2 separate regions of the Homo sapiens genome follow, and region 2 is reported to be linked to region 1. The links are microRNA targets in miRTarBase. Many come from high-throughput screens and were not tested one by one. Region 1 holds a microRNA gene; the other region holds the end of a gene's coding sequence.

The links. The annotated mature microRNA hsa-miR-4662b reads AAAGAUGGACAAUUGGCUAAAU and lies in region 1 at 1,349-1,370, opposite strand. An mRNA with a match to its seed (bases 2 to 7 or 8) in the 3' UTR can be bound and repressed. Matches are read on the target gene's strand: a 7mer-m8 pairs with bases 2 to 8, a 7mer-A1 pairs with bases 2 to 7 and ends in A, and an 8mer does both.
Region 2: miRTarBase lists FICD as a target of hsa-miR-4662b. Seed matches in the 3' UTR shown: 7mer-m8 at 1,900-1,906.

What each region holds. Positions count from the first base shown.
Region 1 is chr8:124,820,640-124,824,195 of GRCh38, forward strand. It overlaps MIR4662B (microRNA 4662b), which reads right to left and starts at 1,419; the gene lies at 1,339-1,419. It overlaps MIR4662A (microRNA 4662a), which reads left to right and starts at 1,346; the gene lies at 1,346-1,412.
Region 2 is chr12:108,519,191-108,522,421 of GRCh38, reverse strand. It overlaps FICD (FIC domain protein adenylyltransferase), which reads right to left. Exons shown (of 3, transcript NM_007076.3): 3 at 1,212-3,231. The coding sequence ends at 2,947. It overlaps SART3 (spliceosome associated factor 3, U4/U6 recycling protein), which reads left to right. Exons shown (of 19, transcript NM_014706.4): 19 at 1-208. Among named protein-coding and RNA genes, the nearest start is that of FICD, 5.5 kb to the right of the region's middle.

The DNA of each region.
Region 1 (3,556 bases):
GTTAATTTTTGTATAAAGTTTTAAAGTATGAGACTTAAGTTAAAACAAGAGATTTTGTTTTGTTTTGTTTTTTGCTCCAACACCACTTGTTGAAAAGAGTTTCCTTCCTTCATTCACTCGCTTTTGCACTTTTGGTATTTTTGGTAAAAAATCAGTTGAGTATATTTTTGTGGGTCTATTTCTGAGTCCTCTATTCTGTTTCATTGATTTGTGGGTTTATCTCTCCACCAATATCATACTACCTTGGCAACTGTAGCTATATAGTGAGACTTAACACAAGGTAGAGTGCTTCCTCCTACTTTTTAAAATAGTTATCACAGCTATTTTATTTTCAAAATTTTTGCCTCCCATACAAATTTTAGAATAAGCTTGGCTTTGTCTACAAAATCTTTTTGGGATTTTGATAAGAATTGTGTTAAACTATTGATAATTTGGGAAGAATTGACATCTCCACTATGATGAGTCTTCCAGTCTATGAACATGGTATTTCTCCTCATTTATGTAGGTCTTTATTTTTTCATCAGCATTTTGTAATTTTCATCAGAGACATAGTATATGTATTTATACCTAAGTATTTTATTTTCTTTGAAGTGATTGTAAATGGTATTGTTTTTAATTTCAGTTTCCCCATGTTCATTGACAGGATAAACAAATGCATTTGATTTTTGAGTGTTGATCATGTATTCTGTGACCTTACTTAATTCACTTATTAATTCTAGGAGGTTTATTTTAGTTTATGTTTTTTAGATTCTTTAGGATTGTATAAATAGACAATCATGTTATCTGCAAATAGAGATGATTTTATTTCTTTCTTTTCAATCTGTATGTCTTGTATTTCTTTTTCTTGCTATATTGCACTGGCTAGAACTTCTACTACCCTGTTGAAGAAGATGTTGAAAGCAGACATCTTTGTCTTATTCCCAATCTCAGTGGGAAGACGTTCAGTTGGCACCATTAAGTATGATGTTAGATGTTTTTTTTTTTTTGTAAATGCTTTTTCACAAATTGAGATATTTTTCGTCTGTTCCTACTTCAGTGAGTTTTTTTGAAAAATAGGGATCATACTTTGCTTTCACAGGATTGCTGTGATGATTCTAGGTGAAACATAAGTAAAAGTTTATGGCTGTTGTGGGCCCTCAAATAAGGTTTAGAAAAACAACCTTTGGACAACATTAAGGCGAGTCATTACAACTTAAAGTGAAACCTTCTGTAGACAAATGATCTCACATCTTCACTTCTAGGTATCTCTTCTGAAGAAACATTGGCTCATGTCCCAGAGATTTATATACAAGGAAGTTTACTGCAACCATGGCTGCAACAGAAAAAGCCATTGTGTACCACAGTGTCTATTTAGCCAATTGTCCATCTTTAGCTATTCTGAATGCCTAAAGATAGACAATTGGCTAAATAGAAATTGTGGTACATCCATACAATGGAATACCATGAAGCCATCGACAAAACATCAAGATTCTATTGACCAACATGGAAAGAGTGCCATGGATGGGCACGGTGGCTCACACCTGTAATCCCAGCACTTTGGGAGGCCAAGATGGTTATATCACCTGAGGTCAGGAGTTTGAGACTAGCCTGGCCAACATGGCGAAACCCTGTCTCTACTAAAAATACAAAAATTAGGTGGGCATGGAGGCAGGCACCTGTAATCCCAGCTACTCAGGAGTCTGAGGCAGGAGAATCGCTTGAATCTGGGAGGTGGAGGTTGCAGTGAGCTGAGATTGTGCCATTGCACTCCAGCCTGGGCAACAAGAGCAAAATCTCAAAAAGAAAAAAAAAAGAGAGAGAAAAAGTGCCAAGACACAAGGTTAGGTGAACAAAGGAAGTCTCAAAACAGAACAATTTGATTTTATATTTATAAATGGCATAATATATAAATATGGCTTATAAATTTATACTTATATCTACATACATATAGTATATAAGTATGTATTTTTAAAACCCAGTCATATATTGTAAACACATTCCTAAGTGCATAGAAAAAGGCCTAGAAGGACTTGACACTCATTTGTTAACATCGGACATCCTTCGGGAAATGAATGGGATTGGGTAGAGTACAAAGGGGTACAAAAGATCACTTTAAAAAACTTTATAAATATATTTGGTCTTTAAAACATTTTTTTACAATGATAATGTTTATATTTACTATCTGTTTACCTAAATAAGACTCAGGTAGTATGGGGCAGGGAGTAGCAATTTCTAGTGGTAAAATTTCAGACAATTGTTTTCCATAGTCACTGGGACCCAGAATTCCTGAGCTCTCTTTGTTCTATTGCTGGCTGCAATATTAGTTGTATGATTTTGGACAAGTCACTTTCTCTCTCTGGGCCTCAGATTCCTCTTGTAATGAGGAGATTAAACTAGAGTACCCATGGATAAGCATTTTTATTATTCACATTTAAGCATCTGACCTCTCTTTGCAAATAGGTTTTTGTATGTGGAACCTTTATGTATACAACAGAAGAAAGCATGTCAACAACCCAACTATTTGTACCCCGGATCCATTTCAGCACTAACGTTTTCTGACTGGAGTTGAAGGCAGTGAACCCAAAGCCACCCGTCAGAACTATACTGCCCCTCAGCTGAGTGAAAAATAACTGGGTGATTTCAAGTGACCCACAGAAGCTCAGGAGTGACAGTTGCTCTCATAAAATGTGTTCCCTGAGCATTAAGCCCTGGTGTTGGCAGGGTCTGATAGCTCAGGGACTGTTTGAGCTCCAAGGAGATCATTACTGTTTCTAGAGAGTTCTATGAGGACCCTGGGTCTTTGGAAGAACTATCCATTTGTGGTTTTTAGGAGAATCAGGTCCTAGATCACTGAAGCCACAGCCCATGGCCCAGAGCTGTAGCTTTACTGCTTTGGGGCTGCAGCAGGGAGGCGAGGCCACCTGGGGAAGCTGAGGGCAAGAGTAGAGGTCAAGTGCAACACACAGCATGCTGTGAAATATGAGAAAGGCTCATAGTGTCTTTTCTTTGAAATGAAAAGCGCCATCTCGAGTTCTGTGGAATTGGGTCCAGCCTTCCTTGGCTATAACAGGCATGATAAGGATCATTTTGCCTCCTTTAGGAGCAGGGCTAGATGTCCTACAATTCTCTGCATTAGTTGAGCCCATGGACAGTAACAGCCATAGTCTGAGATATAAAAAAAAAAACAGCACATCGCCCAGAAAAAAGCCTGGGCCCTGTGCTTTTGGGATTCTATTCGCACGTGTTTCGGACTGGCAAGACTCAAACCCAGAAAGAGGGACTCCCTGAGAGGGGAAAGGCGGACGTGCAGGGCCACTCTGGCCTAAGTCTTCTCTGTGGATCGAAGCAGAAGGTAGGAAGCCGGTGTTTTATACCTCCCTGCCTTTCCCTGCCCATTTGTGGGATGGAGAGCTGGGGGCCTGGGTGAATGACCTGTTGTAGTTCAGGTCCACACTCCTACCAAGGCACACCAGCATGGAGGGCGGGAGACCTGGGCTCAAGCCCCAGTTGGGCCACTTTCTCATCGAGGCTAGTCACATGCCTTTGCAGGTTCTCAGTTTCATTGTTTTTAAAAAGA
Region 2 (3,231 bases), not on the chromosome of region 1:
GGGAAGCTTGCTTTATTAAGACACTCTGGAGAAAGACGTCAGGGAATCCTTGTATATGTCGTGGGAATCAACTCCTCATTTATCTGTTGCGTAAGTTTAAGTTTTTGTGCATCAGTCGGGTTTTCTATATTTTTTTAACTTAACATTTTTTAATATAACCGATTAAAAAGTAGACAGAACAGTAAAATAAACTCCTGTGTGCCTACCATTCAGCTTCCAGCATTCCTCAACTCCCAGCCCCTCTTCCTTCATGTCTGTTTCCCCTCCACCCTCTGTTATATTGAGGCACGTTCCAGATGTCATTGTGCTCATCCAGTAATGTTGCGGCAGGTGTCTCAGGAGGACTGAAAGGCCTTCACTCCTAGAAACATTAGTGGTAATCCCTTCATGTCATCAACTGTCCACTCAAATTTCCACCTTCCTACAAATATCAGCTCTCCTCCCTGTAAATTATTGGTTGGTAAGCCTCTTAAGTCTTAAAAGGTAGGTTCCCCTCCATCTCTTTTTTATACAAAACCAACTTTTTACTAGGCTTTACTTCTGAATTAAATTCAAGCGGCGGCTATTGACAGCAGCAAGAACCTTTGCTGTCCCACGCGTTCCTCCTGCAGTGTTCTCTGTGATGCTGCTTGGAAGGCTGATGGACTGTTCAGCTGGTGTGATGATTTGGGTAGCTCAGAGCCCTCATGGTTGGGGACCTGACACATGAAGAGCCCTGAATATCACTATGGGTGAGTGTGGCCTTACTTTTTGCTGCTTCACATTAACGGTTTGGCTTTGCCTGCAGCCAGTATTCTGACCTTAATGTCACACTTGCAGATGTCAGCCCAGGCTTGGTACAGGGGCAAACCTTTTCAGGCTTGAGCAGAACCCAGTTAGGTTCCGGGTGTTGACTGTTCTAGAAATGGATTTCCAGGACTACATGAGTGGGTTTGTGTGTTTTCCCCAGAAAATCCAGAACTGATGATAAATAGAAATGTGAAAAACTACTTCAGTTACTTGACTGTTTGTTAGTAAAAAAAAATCAGTAATTCATCCTTGCCCACCTAGGTAGGCGGTTTATCCAACTTCTGGGTCTCTTGCCCATGGAAATCACCATCTTGGATCTGTTGCTCTCCCAGAACAGTATTATGAATAGGGCTAAAGGTCAGAATACCCCCACTGCCCTTATGACAGATGGGAACATCTCCCAAATAAGACAGTCTCAAGCATTCATGTAATAAAATAACTTTATTAGAATCAGGAATTTGTTAAAATAATATCCTTCACATATAGCTAAAGTGCAAATTCTCTTGCTCTGTAGTAGAAGCAAGCACATCTGTCAGACCTCCGTGGTGTGCTTATAAAACCAAGACGAGAAGAGTTTTAAGAAGTACCTCTGGCAGCATAAGAGTACGAAAACACATTTTATAAAGGTTTGAACAATTATCATTTGGAGCCATTTCATATATCGTGTATGTCTTTTCACTTATTTTTCTTAACCTTTCAAAAACTACTCTGTGCTATTTATACAACTGAAGAACTGTATAAACTACTTTAGAGCAGTGGCCTCATTACTGTCAGGAACGGAATTACCAAATCAAAGAGACAACACTGCGTATTCGCCATCACTCACACACTGACAAAGTGCAGTAGTGTTAGACATCATGGGCTCTGTCACTGGGAAAGGGACCCAGTGACTTCCACCTCTCTGACTCTAAATAGCAGCAGTCATATTGGCACCTGTACCATATGATTCAAAGAGAAGATTCTACTTCCATTGGATGACAGCTTGGAAACCCGGCCATATTACATAGAGCACTACATCATTTCACAAGTTGCGAGAAAAATAAGGCCACTCCGAGGCAATCTCTTCTGCCTCCCAGGGGGATGGGACACGGGACAGTGCAAAGACCGTGGAAGATGGCAGTAAGTAGATGAAACTCCAGGACCAAAGGGATGCAGCCTGGCCATGGCTGAAGGTTTTTGCTCCATTCAGTAGAAACTGGTGCTCTAATTCATTATCAAAAATGCTTACTTGGTGTCCACATGGCACTTGTTTTCTCAGGTTAACATCTGCCTACAGAAAACTCAGGCAGAGGGGTGAGGGCAGATGCCTACTAGCATAACACCTGGTTTGCAGCACGATACAGGTGGAATGACAAGCCCAGAGAATTTCAGACGAAAACATCTGGCCTGAGTTGCTACAAATGAAGTGTGAGAGAAACGCGGATACACAAAGAAAACCAAACTGCCCGCCCACCATGTTTCCCCCTCCAACATACAGCTCTTTATGGCTACCCCCTATTCTTAATTAGAAAAATAGTCTCAATATGAAAAAAAAAAAAAAAAAAACAGCTGCTGGCACTAAAGTTTGCAAACTATGGCTCAAAAAGTCTTCCTGCAGGTAAGTAAGGAATGTCGGCATTCATTTTCTCTTCTATGAAGTTTGCTTGGAAGTTAGTCACCACTAATCTAAACCTTGAGAAAGTGAGCTTTCAACCATTTCTCTCAGCTGCGACTTGGGTCTGACTTCCCAGTTGCAGTCACAGAACCTCTCAGCCTGTTTCAGAGAAGCACTTGGAGGAGTTATGTCAGTGGCTCTGGGCCCCGTCCCACACCTCTTGGCCGCTCCTCCACCTTAGTGCAAATTCTGCTCCAGAACCTTTGTTCTGGTCACATGGTGGCACTGTTGCCCCTAAAGCACGGCCACCAGCAAGACACAGCAGACACCATACAATACTGACTAGCTTGCTCCAAAGAAGAAAATAAATAGCTTGGTTGAATTATAAGTTATTTTAGAGACAAGGCTTCATAACTTAGTTTTTTTTTTTTTTTAAAACTAAAACATTTGGAGGTAAAGAATGTTTCTCCTTTTGCTTTAGGAAGTGACTAGGTTTCTAGAAATGCTGTTTCTTTTTTTTTTTCCTACCTCAGGACAGCCTTTGTCACTGAGGATTTCTAGGGTTAGGGCTTCACAGGAAGCGTCTCCTTGAACCCAGAGTGGTTGGGTTGGGCTTCTGGCAGTGCCACCGAGTACTCAGTTGTGGCAAAAAGCAGGGTGTCCAGGGTGGTCTCAGTACACTTGGCGATGAAGCGAATGAAAGGCCTCACGTCGCCCTCGTTGGCAGCTTCCAACACGTGGTAGTAGTCGGACCGCTGCTCCTTGCGGATGGTGATGGGCGGGTAGCCCGCCTGCATGAGGATGAGGTTCATGAGCAGACGGGAGGTCCTCCCGTTGCCATCAATGAA